4 linked regions of the Homo sapiens genome follow. The protein of the gene in region 2 purifies or fractionates together with the protein of the main gene of each other region. This does not show direct contact. Each region holds a gene or a part of one and is shown on either strand. Other genes may lie near its edges. The genes, in order: TMEM87A, SPCS2, TM9SF4 and PACC1.

Region 1 (5,208 bases), on a different chromosome or scaffold from region 2:
AGGAAGACCTTAGGTGAAATAAGTGTGGAGCAGGGGCAAGATTGGAGTTGAATTAGATAACTAAGTAGGGGAAACAAAGGGGAGAGGTTGGGGCAGAGATAAAAGTTTGGGAGTCATGAAGATAAAGATATTATTTAAAGTCATGAAGGCCAGGCGTGGTGGCTTACGCCATAATCCTCACACTTTGGGAGGCCAAGGCGGGCAGATTGCCTGAGGTCAGGAGTTCAAGACCAGCCTGGACAACACAGTGAAACCCTGTGTCTGCTAAAATACAAAAAATTAGCCGGCTGTGGTGGCATGCACCTGTAGTCCCAGCTACTTGGAAGGCTGAGGCAAGAGAATCGCTTGAACCCTGGAGGCGGAGATTGCAGTGAGCCAAGATCATGCCACTGCACTCTAGCCTGGGTAACAGAACGAGACTCCATCTCCAAAGTTAAATAAATAAATAAATAAAGTCATGAGACTGGATTTGGTCACCAAGGAAGTGAGTATATATAGAGAAGAGGTCCAAGGGCTGGGCCCTTGAATATTTAATATTATTTAGAAGTCTGTAAGATGAAGTAGTTAGCAGAAGAAATTGAGGAGAGACCAGTGAGGTGGGTAGAAAACTGAAGAATGTGTTTCAAGGAGGAAGTGATTGTGTCAAGAGATCCTGATAGGTCAAGTGAGAATTGGCCATTGAGTTTACCTATATGGAGGGTCATAGTGATAGTTTTGGTGAAGAGATAGGGACAAAAGCCTAATTGGGGAGAGTTCCAGAGAGTATAGGAGGAGAGGAATTAGAATAATTGTATAGACAATTATTTAAAGGAATTTTGCTTTAAGTGGGATTAAGTAATGCTATAGCATCACTTTATAGTGCTTTAAGTAGGATTAAGGTTAGTTGTTTTAAGTTTGTTTATTCAATTAAAGGAGTTTTGCTTTAAATGGGATTAGAGATATGGGGAATTTTAATTCTTAAAACTTATTTATTTAACAATTATTTGAGTGCCTCCTATATGCCAGGAAGTATTCTAGGTTTCCAAGATGAATGGGGAGAAAATTCCCTGCTCATATGGAGTTTTCCCCAATGTATAACAAAAAATATAAGAACAAATATTGGTAAGGCCTATGCAGACATGATTTAAGGCAGCACATCTTAAACTACACTACACTAAGGAATCACCTAAGGATTTTGTTAACATGTGGATTCTGGTTGTGTAGGATTTTGAATCTCAAGGAGTTAAGACTTTTTCTCCTTCAAACAGAAGTTGCTCAGAAGACTTTTCATATATTAGGTTTCGAGCTTGCAAATATACTATTTAATGAACCGTAATAGGATATTTGATTATATTAAGGAATCGTTAGAATTTTTAGATTTGATGGTGGTATCTTGGTGATGTTTTTTAAAAGTTTCTTTTGTGGGCCAGGCACAGTGGCTCATGCCTGTAATCCCAGCCCTTGGGGAGGCCAATGCAGGAGAATCGCTTAAGCCTAGGAGTTCTAGACCAGCCTGGGCAACACGGTGAGACCTTGTCTCTACAAAACATCAAAAAAAAAAAAAAAAATTAGCCTGGTGTAGTGGGACGTGCCTGTAGTCCTCAGCTACTCGGGAGGCTGAGGTGGGAGGGTTGCTTGAGCCCAGGAGTTCACGGCTCCAGTGACTGGGCCACTGCACTTCAGCGTGGGCGATAGAGTGAGACCCTGTTTCTTTAGGGGAAAAAAAGAAAGGCCCTTTTGTAGCCATTGAAATACCAAAGAAAAATAAGGTCCTCATTTATTAAAAACACATACTGAAATATATCAAAGATATACTGTCTAGGATTTGCATCAAGAGAATATGAAAGGGTGGAAAGGGGATGGGGTATGCATGGGACAAAACTGACCATAGGTTAGTGGTTGTTGGGCCTTGGTGAAGGGTTTATAAGGGTGCATTATACTACTTGTGAATATGTTTCAAAACTCTCTGAGGAAACATTTTTTAAAATGTGGTAACCAGACACAAGATCTCAAGTTGTAGTGTTCCCTATCTTGTTTTAAGACCATAAGGTCTTAGTTTTTTTCTCTTAGGTGAATCAAGTGTATATTATTTATTGCTTTAAATTGTTGGCCTATATTAATTAACACAAGTTCCTGTTACTTAGCTTGTTTCGGCATTTGTCCCATATGTACTCAAATATCTCCTTGCTTCCTCTTTAGGCCACGCCTTGGAGTCACTCTTCATAAGGTTGTAGTAGCAGGAGCCCTCTATCTTTTGTTCTCTGGCATGGAAGGGGTCCTCAGAGTTACTGGGGTTAGTACTGCTTAATCTCATTTTCTGTGGTCAGTTCAATTATATTGTTTACATCTTGACAGTGTGGATTGGAAATGTCTGTGGGCTTCTTTCTGTTTGCTTTAAGTCACTTTTGGGCTCTGATTTTCAAAATATATGTATAGTTCATGTTCTCTTTTAAATCTATTAGAGCTTTGTAAATTTAGTGTGTGCCCGAATGAATGCTTTTCCACCTGTCTCCAAATTGCTAATTGTTTTAGTTCCTCCTCCCAAGCAGTAGACTTGCATTTTTTTTTCTTTTTCTAATCAATGGAATCCAGACTGAAATCCAGACTGAAATTCTTGTGTAAATGGCAGACTTTGGAGTCATACACTTACTAGTTAATCTAATCTAAAGTAACTGTTGTTTCTTAACATTTCAGTTTCAAAAACTTCCTTAAAATGCAGCTAATGAGGCTGGGTGTGTAATCATGCCTGTAATCCCAGCATTTTGGGAGGCCGAGGCAGGCGGATCACTAGGTCAGAAGATCAAGACCATCCTGGCTAACATGGTGAAACCCTGTCTCTACTAAAAAAAAAAAAAATACGAGAAATTAGCTGGGCGTGGTGGCAGGCGCCTGTAGTCCCAGCTACTTGGGAGACTGAGGCAGGAGAATGGTGTGAACTCGGGAGGCGGAGCTTGCAGTGAGCCGAGATCGTGCCACTGCACTCCAGCCTGGGCGACAGAGCAAGACTCCGTCTCAAAAAAAGAAAAAAAAATGCAGCTAATGAAGTTTCACACCATTTTTGAGAATTGTATAATTATTCCCTTTGCCAGGGAAGGAAACCAAAGAATCTAAGTGATAAAGAAATTTATGGCTGGGAGCAGTGGTGGGTGCCTGTAGTCCTGGCTACTTGGGAGGCTGAGGTGGAAGGACTGATTGAGTTCAGGCTGCGGTGAGCCATGATCATGCCATTACACTCCAGCAACAGAGTGATACCTCTTCCTTAAAAAAGAGGAGAAAAGAAATTTATGTTACCACTGGATTAATACGAAGAAGTATAAGGTTCTCTAGGCCATTTCAATTAATTTTCTTATTTTTTAAAAAAAGACTCCACAGCAACCTATTAGATTCAATATTGTAAAAACTATAAACTTGGCTTTGCCCACAAGAAAACGGCTCAATATGTTTTGCAATAAATTGCCTCTTAAATCAAACACTTTGTGGATGCACATTTGCTTTTCAAATCACACTGTCCTCTGTATGTAATTCTCTTAGACTTCTAGCAACTTTAACCCTCTGTCAATTTCATTTTCTTTCTTCTGCTGTTGCTATAGTATTTTTCTTATCCCTTGACTCTGATAGTAAACCTGGCCCTCTCAGCAATTGACGCCTGTGTTATTTTATGGATATCCTTTCAGTAATGCCTGTTGATTGGGTAATTAGGGTTATATAAAAAACATACTCTATATAAACTCCTGGAAACATGCAGCATAGTTTTTCAGACAGATAATTGCCTTACATTTTATTTTGGGGTGAGCTCTTATTTGTAAAATATTATAATTTTAGAAATTAATAATTCTTTGTATATGATGCAGTAATTTTTTTTAAATACGAGAAAAGTCTTTTCAGACTTGTAGCCAAAATTGCAATAATAGGAAATGATAGATTAAGGATGGGGCTTATAAACATTAGAACTTTTTTGGAATATGGTCACTTGTTAACATGGATCTTTATATATGAAAAACTCGTACTTAGCAGTATGTTTCGAGATTGTAAATGACAATTTATGTGAAATGCTTATAGCTGTATATTCTATGTGATGGTTTATAAGAAGGGAAGAATGATTAGGTGTCAAATGTTCTTTTTATTTTCTTTCAGTTCAATGCAAAAACTTTCCAGTGATTATGTAAATGCAGAATCATGTGGTGGTTTCTTCTCTGTGCCTCTCTAGACATCTGTTTTTCACCACTTCTTTTTCTTTGTCTGCAGGCCCAGACTGATCTTGCTTCCTTGGCCTTTATCCCCTTGGCTTTCCTAGACACTGCCTTGTGCTGGTGGATATCCTTCTCATTGGCTTGTTTGATGATGGTCCATTTTCTCCCCTTGAGATGGGTTTCCATTGATCTTTCTGCAAAGAGTTTTTATCAGTTTTGTTAATTACTCCTTAGTGTGGGGAACAGTGCATGCTAAGTCTTAACAACCTGAGGGTTCAGGTAAGCAGTTTTTTTTGTTTCTATTTTTTTAATTTTAAAAATCAAATTGGAAATTGGTGACTGTGGACCGAGCTCGAGATAAAATCTTTTGGCTTTTTTCTTTTAAGTGAGCATTTCATCTTGATTTTGCACTTCTTGTTTGTGTACCTAATCATTTAGTGTTAGAGTCACTGGCTGTGCTGGTCCTGCTCTGCCTTTTAGCCTCTAGCAATTCTTAAATGCTTTGAAACTTATGAAAAGATTTTGATCCTTAAAATTTGATTTCAGGAACTATGTAAGGTGCTTTGACTTTTCTGAAACTCTGTATGTTCAGCAGGTTTTAACCCTTATGGAGTGAGTGTTTTCTTGCCTCATTCAAAAGCTGGCTTGGAATTGTTTGAAGATTTCCACCCTTCAGAATAAATAATTGATTCATTTACAGGCAGAGTCAACCAGCAGATAACAAACAAGCTTCTATTTGAGCAATCTTTTTCTCCTGCTCTTTAAAATTAAATTTATATATTAGGGGCTTGGCCTGATGGCTAAAGGATTCAAGTTTTTGGACTTTATCTTATTGAATTTGTTTTGGTTTTTATATATTTGGTCCTATTAGCAGTTTTCATTATTACTGACCTGATAGATTGTGACTGTTGAAAAACTGTGAATGTAAACAAAATTGTTTTGTGAATTTGAGTGGGTTGCTGTATAAGAGTTTTCAGTTAAAGTGTCCTTGGACTAAATAGCCAAAGCTTTTCTAGATTAGTATCTTTCTAAGTGTTTT
Region 2 (4,842 bases):
ACAATCCACTGAATATGTCCTAATAAATGGAAACAGGGTGGGGGATGTCAGCCTACCAGTAATTGGTGTCATTAAACCCTCTTGAATGAATGGACATAGTAATGGCCTTCAGGGTACCTTGAAGTATAGCTAAAGGAATCTCTGGAGTTCATTTAGTAAAGCAGTTGGCATCCCTGGCCTGGGATCAGAGTAAAACCTGGAGCTAGATTGATTACAGAGTGCAAGGACTAGGCACCCCGGGATTGGAGAGCATCCTTGAAAGCAAGGGTTCTTCATTTATTTATAAAAATTTGATTGCCTACTAGAAGCCCAGCTAAGAGTATGAAGCAATTAAGACAACAATCTTTGCTCAAGAATCTCCTAGACAATCCTGATTCAAGCACCAGAAACAAAGGGAAAAGAAACCTCCCAGTCTAGTGAAGAAAGTAGTACACATCATGTCAACAGATAGGTAATTTTGTTGATACCATAAGAGCCTATTATTAGGCCTGGCATATGACAGGAGGTCAGTATTTGAGTTGAGTATTGATTGATGGTACTGTGGAAGACAGAGGAAACACATCTGACCCAGATTGGTAGGCTTTCCCAGAAAAGTTTATGCCCAAGTATAGTGTTAACAAATAAGAACTTCTCAGGTGAGATAGGGGAGAAGAGTCTGCGAGGAAAACCTGTCTAGCATGGCAAATACGAAGTCCAGAGATGAGAGAAGATGGTCCACGTGGTTTAAAAGTCTACAACAAGGTAAAGGAGGTACACAGTAATTAAAGTAGGAAAGATATGTCAACACCTAAGAATCAGAACTAGTATCTTGAAAAGTTAGGAGCCCTGGGGTTTTGTTTTTGCTTTTGCTTTTAAAGGATGTGTTTGTTCCCTGTATCACCGTGCCCAGCTTACTCCTTTTCTTCGGAAACACTTGGTGCCGTATTGTTACTGGTTGAATCTCTGTGTTTGGTTTTTAATTTGTTATCTTTGCCCCCATGCTTAGGTTTGATGACAAATACACCTTGAAGCTGACCTTCATCAGTGGGAGAACAAAGCAGCAGCGGGAAGCCGAGTTCACAAAGTCCATTGCTAAGTTTTTTGACCACAGTGGGACACTGGTCATGGATGCATATGAGCCTGAAATATCCAGGCTCCATGACAGTCTTGCCATAGAAAGAAAAATAAAGTAGCCAATTCTAAAAGTAGCCCTCTTTCTCCTGGATCTTGCTGAATTAGTGGCTTGGGGGGTGGGGGAGATAAAAAGAACTTAAAATGGGTAAAGTAAGAAATGTTAAAAAGTCCCTGTTTTGTCCTGAAATTTTAGTCTATTCTGGGTAAATAGGATTTTCTGACACAGATATGAGAAGTTGTAGCTCTGATGTCTAGCTGTAGTCTCCTTGATCTGCTGATTGCATTATTTTAATTTGCTTTTCTGGGAAAGCAGTTTTGCTAAAAGCTGTACAGACTTTTTCTTTTGTACCTAGCAGTACTTTATATAGTATAGCTTTGGGCCATGTAGCATTTTAAGACTCAATTTTAAAAAATTATTAATCTGTTGCTGACTCTTAATTCCTATTTCAATATGTGTTTCCTTGAAGAATTCAGGATACAACTTCTTGTGTATGACAGCTTTCCTTCACACACTATTTTTGTGGGTGTGTATATATCTGATTTGGGAAGAATTTAAAAAACACATAGCTTTTTAATTTGTTTGAAACAGACTTTCTGCCTGTTACATTTTTGCTTTTAACCAATTAAAGAAGCCAATGGCATTTTAGTTTTATATTGTGTTTTCCACTAGTATATCCCTGTTGATTTGTTTGTGCCTTTTATTAACTGCCATTTTCTAAAATTTTTTTCAATAAAAGGAAGGAAGATGTGAAAAAAATGGAGTCATAGTTTTGATGGAGAGAACAGAGAAACAAGTGTTAACATCTTTCTACTATAGGTTTTTTTCATTTTTAGGCTATTTTACTTGTCAAAGGCCCCTGAGAACCTGTAGCTAAGGAACTCTTAGCTTTCCAGTGATAATAACAATAATAACAACATTCTGTACTTACTTTGTGCCAGAAATGCTCCAAGTACTTTACATGTGTTAATAATGCTCACAGCAATCCTAAGAGGCAGGTGCTGTTATTATCCCCATTTTACACATGAGGAAACTGAGATACAAAAGTTAAATAATTGTCACACAGCTAGTGATAGAACTGGGATTCAAACCTGGGGAGTCCGGCTTCAGAGTTTGTGGTCCTGCAGAGACAAAACAGCCGCTTTTCCAGTATTTTCCCAGTATGGTCAGAGAAGACCTGGGTGCTTGCCAAGATCCTTTGACCTTTAGGAATATTTCCCTACAGCCTTACAAAACATCAATTTTGGCTGAGCCTAGTACCCAACACTATATTCAGTTTGTAAGAAATTACCATTATCACATTTCCTGTTTGTCTTGGAGAGGTTGTCCTATCTCGCACCACATGGTAGGGAATTGTGAACAACACTGGACAGAAAGTTAAAGCCTTGGATTCTGTACTCTTCATTCCTGTAAACCTTGGGTAAGTTTCGGAATTCTCTGTGAGCTTCTTAAAGTTTTTGAAAGCATGTAACCGGATAAGTGTATTTTTACAATGGAGGAGTTACAGTCATCTTGGTATTTGTGGGAGATTGGTTCCAGGATCCCCAAGCATACCAAAATCCAAGGATGCTCAAGTCCCTTATATAAAATGGTATAGCATTTGCATATAACCTACACACATCCTCCCATATACTTTTAATCACCTCTGGATTACCTATAATACCTAATATAATGTAAATGCTATGTAAATAGTTATACTGCATTGGTTTTTTAATTTATATTTTTTGTTATTTTTTAAAATATATTTTTAATCCATGGTTGGTTAAATCTGTAGATATAGAGGGCCAACTGTACTGTTAGACACAAGGGTCTCGAGGCTTGCAGATAGAGACTGAATAACCCTCTCCATGATGATCCCTTAGAGTTCCCCCACTGTGCCTTTTTCTTTACATGTGCATGCAAACATGTGTCTCCACATACATTTTTTTTAACAAAAATTGAATTATGTTGATATATGTCCTGTAATTTGTGTTTTAAACTTAATATATCTTAGGCATTTTCCCTGTGTGTGTGTATAATGCAGCTATTAAAAATGAGTCTGAGGCCAGGCATGGTGGCTCACGCCTTTAATCCTAGCACTTTGGGAGACCAAGACAGGTAAATCACCTGAGGTCAGGAGTTCGAGACCACCTTGGCCAACATGGTGAAACCACATCTCTACTAAAAATACAAAAAATTGGCTGGGCATGGTGGCAGATGCCTGTAATCCCAGCTACTTGGGAGGCTGAGGCAGGAGAATGGCTTGAACTGGGAGGCGGAGGTTGCAGTGAGCCGAGATCACACCCTGCACTCCAGCCTGGGCAACAAGAGCAAAACTCCGTCTCAAAAAAGAAAAAAAAAAGAGTCTGACATACATATATATAAAAGAAACTGTTCTAAAATACCAGAAGTGCAAAGGCAGGGGACCAATTGCAACAAGTAGCTGGGGTGATAACCCCTATATATATATACACATAGGTCAGTCTCATTTTTAATAGCTACATAATATTCCATAGTATAAGTGATTTTACTTTAATACCCTATTGATGATAATTTTTCCCCAGTTTTTTTCACTATTCCAGGAAGGAGTATGGATTGAGGAGAGGGGAAGAAAATAGGTCCTCAAATGAGAGACAAGAAACCTGGGTTGTTAGCAACTTTTTTCTAATTTGTGACCTTGAATACATCCTATTCCTTTTCTAGGGTGAAGTCTCTTGTTAAAAAAAAAAAGTTTTAGAGAATGTATTTTGAGATTATGAAGACTCCTTATTCCCTGGGAAATAAAAAACATCCCTTATGATTACAAAGAATGTTGGGTGCCATATCCCCAATATCTGCCTATAAGGCTCACTGGAGACTTCTTGGACTACATGGATCTATTTTAAGGTTTTTCCCTGACTCCAGAAACCAGTTGAAGCAGTTTAGATTTGTTGAAGAAGTGGGTTATCAGCCCAGCTACATGTTGCAGTTGGTCCCCTGTCTTTGCACTTGTGGCATTTTAGGAGTGTCTCATCACATGAACAAAAAGTACCCTCTGCAGGCTCAAGCCTCAGCATGGGCACACTTTGTAGAGCTGCAGAGTGCCTCTGGCCAGCTTCTGACACATGCATCTACTGAGTGGCCATTTCAGCCCAGTCCAGAAGGCTGCTGGGCTGCTCTGTACCCTCTAGTAGGTCTGCAACACCCTTGCCACCAGGAAACCCTGACACCCATCACATCATCATGAGTGAAGTTCTCAGTTCCTCACACTTACCTCAGACGGACTTTTTTCTAGAAAATAGAGGGCCACTGAGGACAGTGGAAAAAGATCCTAATGTTTTTTCATTATTTGCAAATTTCAACTGCTAATATGTATTTAATGTTTGTCATGCTTTTATATACGTGTAGAAACAATCTTTGCTTCAGAACAATTTCGGGGAATGGAAGAAGATGCAAAGTCCCTTTGCATACACACAAGTTGTGTTTTTCTCTGGACCCAAGTTCCTCCTCAGCTTGGAGCCCGATCTCTCACTAACTCTACCTTATCCACTCCTGGCTAGCCCCACCCACACCCCAAACCTTTTCTCCATGGTGGAAGTCATCAGAGAAAACTGTTAATAGCACGTTAATTTAGACTTTTAGAATATATCCTGTCCCCACTGACAGCCTTTTTTGTTATTAAATAGAGTATTCCTAACAACCCAACCCACCCTATGGTCCCCTTCTCAGAATAATGTTTTAAATACATACACATATCATTGTCTGTTAATAAG
Region 3 (5,208 bases), on a different chromosome or scaffold from region 2:
GCTGGGATGACAGGTGCCTGCCACCAGACCCGGCAATTTTTTTGTATTTTTGTAGAGACAGGGTTTCGCCATGTTGGCCAGGCTGGTCTTGAGCTCCTGACCTCAAATGACCCACTCCGACCTCGGCATTTCCCAAAGTGCTGGGATTACAGGTGTAAGCCACTGTGCCTGGCGACAGTCACCATTTTGAGACCATGTCAGTAACTGCTCCCTCAGATTAAGCAAAAAAAAAAAAAAAAAAAAAAAAAAGAAAAAGGAAAAAGGAGGAAAAAAAAAAAAAAGAAAAAGGCTTTGGGCACAGTTTGCCAACAGTTAACTGAAGTCAATTATCCAGTCAGTTAAAGCTTACCAAGAATCCAGCCGCATGTGAATGAAGGCTAATGACAGCTAGAGACAACTTACCAAGCAGGCCCATGGAACTAAAGAACTCACAGAGCAAGAAACAAACAAACAAACAAACAAAAAACAAATTAGCCACAGGAAACTGAAAATGTAGCCTTTATTTCAGAGCCCACAGACACAGAGTAGCTGTTGAACAGAGACACATGAAAGACTCAAAGCTGTAATTTGGGGGTAGGGAAAAACGCACAGCAGGCTGCACTGCGGAAGTCCAGGTGAAACTAATAACCACCCTCACGAAGCAACAGGCAACCAGACTTCAACCCTGACACCACCAAGTGCAGAAACGTACTGCTCTCCTGTCTCCACCTTGGGTATTTATAAAAGAACTCTCAGCTAGCCCAAGCAGCAGGCTTAGATAGCTCACCACGGGAAGACTTCAAACCTTGGAGTAAAGTTACAGAGTGCCCTCTCTGTGCTAGCACTTTCATCTCATATTTCATTTAATCATCACAACAATCCCTTGAGAATATCATCCTTGTTTCAAAAATGAGATGATGAAAAAGTTCTGGAGACGGATAGTGCTAACAGCTGCATATGTGTAAACGTACTTAATGCCACTGAACTGCACACTTAAAAATGCTTAAAGTGGGCCAGGCATGGTGGCTCATGCCTGTAATACCAGCACTTTGGGAGGCTGAGGCAGGTGGATCACCCAAGGTCAGGAGTTCGAGACCAGCCTGGCCAACATGGCGAAACCCTATCCTTACTAAAAATACAAAAATTAGCCAGGCGTGGTGGCACATGCCTGTAGTCCCAGCTACTTGGGAAGATGAGGCAGGAGAATCGCTCGAACCCAGGAGACAGAGGTTGCAGTAATGCACTGAGCTGAGATCGCACCATTGCACTCCACCCTGGGCGACAGAGTGAGACTCTGTCTCAAAAAAAAAAAAAAAAAAAAAAAAGCTTAAAGTGGTAGGTTTTGTTATTACCACAATAAAAAATTTTAATATAAGGTAATTGAGGCTTAAAAGCGCAAACGGTTTTCCCAAAATCACATAACCAATCAGTCCAAAGTCACAAAAGTAATCACAGTGTCAGAGCTGGGAGTCTAGCCCAGATTCTCAGACCAAGCATAAGAGGATTTCAAACCCTGGGAGGTCTGTTGGTTTAAAGCATCAGGCATAGGTGAGAAACCATGTTAGGAAGGGAGAGAAGGAAGCAATGAAAAGGAATGAGATGGAACTGAGAAGTCCTGGGTGTCCCCATCCATGCCCCATTTGGGAAACTCTAGTGTCAGCAAATGGTTCAGGGATCAAAGCAGGCTTGAAGGTGGTAGTGGCTCCTATTATTCATCCGTGGCCAGATGGCTCTTCTCATCCTGGGTCCTTCCCACCTTTTTGCCAGTGCCCAGAGATCAAAACTCAGCCTTCTCCAACATTCTCTGACGTGCTTCTTTAATGCCAAGATCAAAGGGAGACGTTTGTCCAAGTTGTAAAACAGAAACTAAGAGGCAACTTAATGTGATCCCAACCTCCTCTGTACTTCCTGAGGGGGATTAAGGGCATTCCTTTAAAGGGACCCCTCAGAGAAACACATTTAACCAAGGCCCGATGTCAGCACCTCAGCTCCAAGGACACAGTAGCTCCTGCAGAACATGAGCCAGGTGGGGAAACCTGGGTGATCAGACAGACAATACAACCAACACAACAGCTTGGAAAGATCACAGTGACCATCATCATGGAAAAAACAAAATAAGTCTGATTTTATAGGCATATTAGCAAAACTCACCTTAAAGTATTCCAAACTACAAAATTTTCAACTCAGAATTTGGAAATCATCAAGTACAAACCTTAATTTCACACATGACATATGTGGAAAACAGACTAATGAAGCCAAAGTAATTTGCCCCAGGCCACACAATGCATCAGTGGCAGCGCTGGGACCAAGCCCAGGCTGCTGGCTCCTGCTCCAGCGTTCCTTCTTCAGTCAGCTCATGTCCTCCTGTACATGGGGTCCAGAGGAGACAGCAACTTCCTGCACACAAGACTGATGGCACAGTTCAGGCCTCTGGCCTTCTGTTCCAGGACTCTATCATCCAACCTGATTAGCACGCTATTTCACCATTAAAAACAGTTTTTGCTGGGCACAGTGACTCACACCTGTAATCCCAGCACTTTGGGAGGTCAAGACGGGAGGATTGCTTGAGGCCAGGAGTTCAAGGCTAGCCTGGGCAACATAGCAAGACCCTGTCTCTAAGAAAAATATAATTAAAAAATTAGGTGGATGTGGTGCGTGCCTGTAGTCCCAGCTACTCAGAAGGCTAAGGCAAGATGATCGCCTGAGCCCGGGAGGTGGAGGCTGCAGTGAACTATGATCGTGCCACTGCACTCCAGCCTGGATGACAGAGTGAGACCCTGTCTCAAATAATAATAACAAACAAACAAAACCAGTTTCTGTGCCTTTGACTGGGGCTGGAGGGACTACTGGCATTGGCTCCATTAGCACAAAGGAATCTTGATGTCATTTATTCCATTCCTGTTTCTGGAGTGGCTCAAACCCAAGTAACCTCAAAACAGTGTGAACTGATGCAGGAATACACTTCCATACACCCATGGAAACTGAATGTATGTTCACACAAGAACTTACACCTGAATGTTCACAGCAGCATTATACCTAACAACCAAAAAGTGAAAACAATCCCAATATCCATCAACTGATGAGTGATAAACAAGCTGTGGTACATCCATACAAGGGAAGATTCAGCCATAAAAAGGGATGCGGCACTACTGATACATGATACAACATAAACAAACTTTGAAAACATTATGCTAAGAAGCCAGACACAAAAGATCACATATTATATAATTATCTTTGTATAAAATGTCCAGAATAGGCAAATCTATAGGGACAGAAGGTAAATTAGTAGTTGCCTAGGGCTGTGGGGAGGGAAGAGTAGGGAGTGACTCTCTTTTTGGGGTGATGAAATGTTCCGAATTACACAATGGTGATAACCATCACATTTAGTGTATGCACAACCTATAAAAACACTAAAACCCACTAAATTATATACTTTAAAGGGGTGAATTTTATGGCATATGAATTATATCCATAAAGAAGATTATAATAAAAACCAAAACAGTATGAACAATGATGTGAGGGAAGTAGAGTTTTATTCTCCAAACTGAAGTTTCTAGACTCCTGACACATCTAGAAATGTACTCAATGGACATTTCCCAAGTTTCAATGAAATAATATTCCCAAGAACCGTTTTCCATAAAGAGTGAGACATGAGCCCGCATCTCAATTCAGACCTAGCTAGATCAACACTGTATCCTGTAACTTTACAGAGTAGTCTAAATCTAAGGATGGAAGAAGACAGGAAAATCAAAGAGAACTTCAGTTTACACCAGCTATCTTCTATGGAGGGAGAAGTCTTGCCCTGCGGGTTCAGGAAACACCCTCCATACTGACATTGTTCTGGGAGCTGGCGGCTCAACCCTTGGGGAAGAAGAGCCATTCACCAAGGAAAGAGAGAAAGGGAAAAGCTCACATGCCACCGCACTTGCACCCACAACCCTAACTTTCAAAACAAAGGACAAACCAGCAACCCAGCTATTCCCACGGCCACTGGATCCACTAGTTCAGTTCCTCTTTGGCTGTATGACTCACCTCAGAGACCCATACACTCCAAAGTAGGTCTACCGCACCCCCTCGCCCCAATGGTTATGAAATGAGGGTGTGTATGAGGGTGTGGGGACTATTCTGACTTCCGTGTAATGAAGTGCTGACACAGACCAAACTCAAGCCTGTGACTCCACTTTGCCCCTTCATCACATACCCCTGTAATAAATTTGCTTCCACACCTTTTCACTATTGCACCAGATATGAAGTTTCTCCATATGCACCCTTTAAACTGGCCTCTGTGGGTCACTGCATATGTTACATACTCAGTTTCTTTAAATCAGTTACTGTTTTCAGTACAACACTCCCAGGTGGCACAACAAACACTAAATCACCGTACTTGCAGGGTTTTGTTGGTGGTGGTGTGTTTTGTTTTTTGTTTTTTTTTTTTTTTTGAGATAGGGTCTCACTCTGTCACCCAGGCTGCAGTGCAGTGACACGATCTTGGCTCACTGTAGCCTCCGCCTCCCGGGTTCAAGCGATTCTTGTGCCTCAGCCTCCCGAGTAGCTGGGATTACAGGTGTGTGCCACCACACCCTGCTAATTTTTGTATTTTTAGAAGACAGGGTTTCGCCATGTTGGCCAGGCTGGTGTTGAACTCCTGGCCTCAAGTGATTTGCCTGCTTCAGCCTCCCAAAATTCTGAGATTACAGGCATGAGCCACTGCTCCCGGCCTGTTGTTGTTTCTTAAGACAGGGTCTCGCTCTGTTGCCAAAGCTGGAGTGCAGTGCAGTGATCAGGGCTCACTGAGGTTCAAGTGATCCTCCCACCTCAGCCCCGCAAGTAGCTGGTACTACAGGTGCACACCACCAAGCCCAGCTAATTTTTTCTTTTTGTATTTTTTTTGTAGAGGGGTTTGCCATGTTGTCCAAGCTGGTCTCAAACTCCTGAGCTCAAGCGATCTCCCAGCTTTGGTCTCCCAGAGTGCTGGGATTACAGGTGTGAGTCACTGTGCTGGGCAAAAATCACTGTCCCTTCCACTGTGCTTAGACTAAAATCCAAACTCCTTTCCACAGCCTCTGTGCCAACTGAGAACAAGCTGGCTCCCTTCAAGTACTGTCCTGAAGGGGATGGGAAGGGGAAGCAGCCTAATACAACACTATTTCAAAATGCAATCCACAGACAACAAAATGTAGACCGCAGTCCTTCCCATTTCCAGGCATGCTTCTCAAAACAGTTGCTCTT
Region 4 (5,208 bases), on a different chromosome or scaffold from region 2:
CCACACTTGTCTAGATGTGGAGGAGAGAAAGCAGTGTTACCACCTCTGTGTGCCCTTCCCTTGCCTGTGCCCAGCGAAAGGAGAGAGAGTAGGCAGGGGATCATAGTCTGTGGTTCTCCTCACACTATTTTTTGGAGAGAGAGTGGCAAAAATCTCATATATACAAGATCCTGACATTGGTAGCAAAGCCAAGGCTTTACCTTGGTTTCCACAGTTCTCTGGGGAAATGGGATCTGTGATTTACAATAGGTGTTTTGGATTGTCACTGAAATTTGTCACTAGGTATCTGTACTCACAATTAAACCATATTCAGGCCAGGCATGTTGGCTCACGTCTGTAATCCCAACACTTTGTGAGGCCTAGCCAGGCAGATCACCTGAGGTCAGGAGTTTGAGACCAGCCTGGTCAACATGGTTAAGCCCTGTCTCTACTGAAAATACAAAAATTAGCCAGGTGTAGTGGTGGGCGCCTGCAATCCCAGCTACTCAGGAGGCTGAGGCAGGAGAATCGCTTGAATCTGGGAGGCAGAGGTTGCAGTGAGCCGAAATAGTGCCACTGCACTCTAGCCTGGGGGACAGAGCAAGACTCTGTCTCCAAAAAAAATAAAATATTAAAAATAAACCATATTCAAACTACCATGTAAGACTCACAATTAAAAGCAATAAAAATTCCAAATTTCAAAGTACTTGGTTTTCAGATCAAGTATTTCTCTGAATTTTCAACGCTTGTTTCAACCCTTCAAGTTTACAGGGACAAAGCACAGCTGCATAGATCCACACAGCTGAGCATTCCCTGTAAATACTTAGTAGGTGTGCTTGGTGAGATCTGGTTGTCAATTACTAAAGACGCTGTGTGGTGTAACGGAGAGCAGACAGGTAACAAAGGCAGAAACCAGCTCCACCCAGAGGCTCAGATCCATCATCGAAGCTGAGCCTCAGCTTTGCCACCCACAAAGCTGAACAAAATGCCTACGTCACTACAGTATAGGGGCATACCTATGTGAGAGCACTCTAAACTCTAAAATGTGATTTTAAAACACATTTTTTAGTTTTGTTCAAAAGAGCTCATAATGCCAACAAAAGACTTCCAATTTAGACAGTAATAAAAGATGCTAAAATTTCTTTAATGTACAGGTTCACTAGAGTTTTCACCCTTTGGTTTCGGATCACAGTGGGAGCTATCAGAAAATCCAGGGTAGATGGGGTTGAACTTAATTGTAAGGTAAGTGAACACAGTCTCCTTCCTCAGAGCTGCTGTGGGGCCAGATAAGAAAGGACTTGAATTTCTTGGAGCAAATTTGGAGGTAAAAATCTGGGAGATGACAGTTATCTTACAAAACAGGAAGATTTTAAGGTCCAGTCACCAGGAGGGGTTGTCACTTCCCAAGGCAGGAAAAATAGCCTTGCTTCCTTGAAGAAAACTGGCTTTGAGCCTCTTCCAAGTAACCAGCCTGGACTAGTCTGAGGAGCTAGGGCTCATGACAGGGCCCTGTTTAAGACTAACCCAAGACAGTCTTCTCCGGCCTAACTTCTGGCCAGTGATGGCCTAGTTGACTGGAGTGTGTCCTTCTGCTCCAGATGAGCATCCCGAGCCACTGGGATACAAGAAGAAAAGACTAGCTTTTTTTACTATTTATTTTTATCTCATCCTTTTAACATTTCTATTTTTGAATGTTTAAAGTGTATATAACACTAAGACAATAATAGTATGTTATATCACCTGCAGAGTTATATGTATATGGAGTATATGATCAAAAAGTTTTTACTAATGGGAAATCTGATCAAAAAGCTTTCAGCCCACTGGCCTAGCAGCCAGGAGATACACCTGGCATCTCTCGCTGTGACACCTGTGAGAGCTGAAGAGGACCTTAGGAAAAGGATCAACATGCACACTTGGGACCACTGTGTCTAGTCTCTCTTCCCTGCAAATAATCAATCTGCTAGGCCACTGCCAGCCCCTCAAAGTGCTGCTAGATGCAAGACATCAGACACAGCTGGGCGAGTTACTGACCTCTCTGCAAGCCACAATGATCTCTGCCCCACACATGCATTCCGTGAGGACTGGCCGGTATGTGCGCTGCCTGCAGAAGCACACACAGACTCCCTGGCATAGCATATGAAGCCCTCCATGGGAGTCCCTTCTCATCCTGACCAAGGCCTACTCACCCTTAAGGCCCTGCTCAAAGGAGCCTTCTCTGCAAAGCTTCCCTCCACCTCAGACTCGAATGTGGAAAAGTCACCAGCAGTTTCAAGCAAACCCAGAGCCACCTACCTCCTGCCGGAACTCCACTGCTTCCCGCCCATCCTCCTCCTTGGTCTTTACCAGTGACATCTTGACCCAGGTGCGGAAGCCCCCAGAGAACTTCCAGCTGGAATAGGCACTCTCACAGGCCTGCATGAAGCCTACCCTGTTTGGGCTTGGAGGAAGGAAGGAGAAGGAAGATCCAGGTCAATGCAGGTCTGGCAGCAGGAGTCGAAGCCCCCACTGCAAGCTGGTTTCTTTGCTGGCACAACCAGGATGCTGCCCACTCCCTGCCTCCTCTCCAAATTGTGATTGCCTCAACAGGGCTGTCAGTCACCAGCAAAAGCAAGGCCCATCCCTCTTTTCTCTCCATTTGGTTTCCAAATGGAGGGGTAGTCACTGGCCTCAAGGCAGGAACATGATCCTTGAAGCTCCCAGTGGGAGAAATCTTCCTCCCTCCTCCCATCATTCCTATCGATGGCTACCAAAGCTGTCGGCAATGAAGTTGGCAGAAGCTCCCCAGAACATGGCGCTCACAGCTCCTCAGAGAACTCTGGACTTCAGCAGAGCCTGAGGAAGCCCTCACCAGCCTGTCAGCTCCCATGGAAGGCCCAAAGAGGGGAAGAGGGTTCCTTGGGGAGGTCTCAGCCAGATGGGTCACCTACAGCATCAGCCCCAAGACGGTGCAGATGCAGCAAAATCAAAGCGAACATAAAAACAAGTAAAAACTGCAGCAGCATACCGAGGAAGCTCACGAAAGGAGCGTGGAGTGGGGGTGGGATCCCGGGGAAAGTCTTCCAGGAGGAAGGCAAGATGGCCAGCTTGAAGCAGGGAAGGGAGAGGGAATTCTAGGTGGCAGAAAGGGTGGAAAATGCTAAGGCAGAGGCTCCGAGCTCTGGGGTGGAAGAACAAAGCAGTGGTGGTGTGGAATGGAGGCAGCTCGCTGCATGTCCAGCTGGGGAGCAGCCTCCCTGCCCCTGTAGCTGCCTCCCTGCTTGCTCTGAATGGAGCCTCTGGGCTCAGCAGGACCTGGTAGGAACTGAGTCCCTCTCAACTCAGGCACATGAAGAAAATTCTCCTGCCCTCTAGGCTCCACGGTGTGACCCCAAAGCAGTGTGTGTGGAGCAGACAAGAACTTTCTGATGGTCAGGGGACATTCATCACTGTAAATCGAAGACTAAGAGAGGTGGCAGAGCTTATATCCTCATACCAGAGATGCAGTAGACCCTTGAACAACACAGGTTTGAACTGGCTGGGTCCACTCACGTGCGGATTTTCTTTTGCCTCTGCCACTCCTGAGACAGCAAGACCAAACCTCCTCCTCAGCCTACTCAACATGAAGGCGATGAGGATGAAGGCCTTTACAATGATCACTTCCACTGAATGAATAGTAAGTATATTTTCTCTTCCTTATGATTTCCTTTTTTTTTTTTTTGGAGTCTCGCTCTGTTGCCCAGGCTGGAGTGCAGTGGCGCAATCTCAGCTCACTGCAAACTCTGCCTCCTGGGTTCAATCGGTTCTCCTGCCTCAACCTCTTGAGTAGCTGGGACTACAGGTGCCCGCTACCACGCCTGGCTAATTTTTTGTATTTTTAGTAGAGATGGGGTTTCACCATGTTAGCCAGGATGGTCTCGATCTCCTGACCTCGTGATCCGCCCACCTTGGCCTCCCAAAGTGGTAGGATTACAGGTGTGAGCCACCACACCTGGCCATGATTTTCTTAATAACATTTTTTTTCTCTAGTTTACTTTATCGTAAGAATACAGTCTATGATATATATAACCACGCAATATGTGTTGTTTATGTTATTGGTAAGGCTTCTGTCAACAGTAGGCTGTTAGTAGTTTTGGGGGTCAAAAGTTATACACAAATTTTTGGCTGCATAGGCAGGAGTGGTTAAGTTTGGTAACCCCAAACCCCAAGTTGTTCAAGGACCAACTGTATTTCAGGCAAACATACATTAAGCCCGCACTAAGGGCAAGATGTGGTTCCTGTGCACACTGTGGGGGAAACCAAGGAACCACACAAGAACTTGCTCTCAAAGGGACTTACAAATCAAAGGCAACTTCCCCTACTCCTCAGCAGCCCCAGGCAATGGTGAGACCAAATGATCTCTCTAGAACCAGCCAGCACTATGTGCATGGAGAGCCAGCATGCTCCTCCACACCAGATTTGCTTAACTTTGTGATAAGATGTTGAGTGGACCGGCCAAGCTCATGAGGTCCCTTCCTGGGCCAGTGGGTCATCTGAGAATGCCCCTTCCCTTCCCTGCCCTCACCCCTCCGTCTCTAGCCTTGGGACATACACAGCTGGAATAAGATAAAAAGTAGACAGTAAGCCCACTGTGAACTCTAAAAGCCCACCTTTGCAGGAACTCCTGGAAAGAAGAGAAGAGGAGGTAATCAATGGCGCTGAAGTCCTCACTACTCTTGTTCAGGCGGAACTGGAGGAAGACCAGCTCCCGCTTTTTCACTTCCCGGGGCCCCTGGACAATCAGGGCAGATTTCTGCAGAGAGAAAAAGGACAGAGTCTCAGTCCTGGGAGAGTACACAGAGGCCTCTGGGTCTGAGGGCAGAAGTACTGACTGGAAAGCCCATAGCTCCTTGCCCAGTGGTCTCCAAAGGGACCACTAGCCAACAACAGGACTGGGCTGGGACTCATGCTCATTCCTGGGGAGTTTTCCCCATATGATGCCCAACCAGAGCTGAATGCAGCTCATCCTCTGTCCACTTTTCTCATTGGTTCTTTGAGTTATGGAAGCTCTTAATTTAGCAAGGATGATCACTTTCATCTGTTATGTGTGCCAATCTTTTCTTCCAGTCTGTCATTTTTCTTTTAACTTTGTTTCCAATGTCATTTGTCCTATGGAAACTTTAAATTTAACGTAGTAAAACCTTAAATCCTTTTCTTTACGGCTTTGGGTTTTGCTTGCTGAGGAAAGCCAAAATTATATCAATATTCTCCTCT

The links.
Region 1: the proteins of SPCS2 (region 2) and TMEM87A fractionate together in Homo sapiens (co-fractionation; one large-scale study listed by BioGRID). This does not show direct contact.
Region 3: the proteins of SPCS2 (region 2) and TM9SF4 fractionate together in Homo sapiens (co-fractionation; one large-scale study listed by BioGRID). This does not show direct contact.
Region 4: the proteins of SPCS2 (region 2) and PACC1 purify together in Homo sapiens (co-immunoprecipitation; one large-scale study listed by IntAct). This does not show direct contact.

The regions. Positions count from the first base shown.
Region 1 is NC_000015.10:42,230,277-42,235,484, reverse strand, and holds part of TMEM87A (transmembrane protein 87A isoform 1 precursor), read left to right. Parts: intron 1-2,178; coding exon 2,179-2,272; intron 2,273-3,569; coding exon of another isoform or gene 3,570-3,641; intron 3,642-4,224; coding exon 4,225-4,293; exon of another isoform or gene 4,294-4,363; intron 4,364-5,208. UniProt on the Homo sapiens protein: Potential monoatomic ion channel gated by mechanical force, implicated in normal touch sensitivity through the generation of mechanically activated currents.
Region 2 is NC_000011.10:74,975,872-74,980,713, forward strand, and holds the end of SPCS2 (signal peptidase complex subunit 2), read left to right. Parts: intron 1-985; coding exon 986-1,172; 3' UTR 1,173-3,162; downstream 3,163-4,842. UniProt on the Homo sapiens protein: Component of the signal peptidase complex (SPC) which catalyzes the cleavage of N-terminal signal sequences from nascent proteins as they are translocated into the lumen of the endoplasmic reticulum.
Region 3 is NC_000020.11:32,111,904-32,117,111, reverse strand, and holds part of TM9SF4 (transmembrane 9 superfamily member 4 isoform 1 precursor), read right to left. Parts: intron 1-5,208. UniProt on the Homo sapiens protein: Associates with proteins harboring glycine-rich transmembrane domains and ensures their efficient localization to the cell surface.
Region 4 is NC_000001.11:212,375,291-212,380,498, forward strand, and holds part of PACC1 (proton-activated chloride channel), read right to left. Parts: intron 4,748-5,208; coding exon 4,605-4,747; intron 2,417-4,604; coding exon 2,272-2,416; intron 1,595-2,271; exon of another isoform or gene 1,504-1,594; intron 11-1,503; coding exon 1-10. UniProt on the Homo sapiens protein: Chloride channel gated by pH that facilitates the entry of chloride ions into cells upon exposure to extracellular acidic pH. Involved in acidosis-induced cell death by mediating chloride influx and subsequent cell swelling.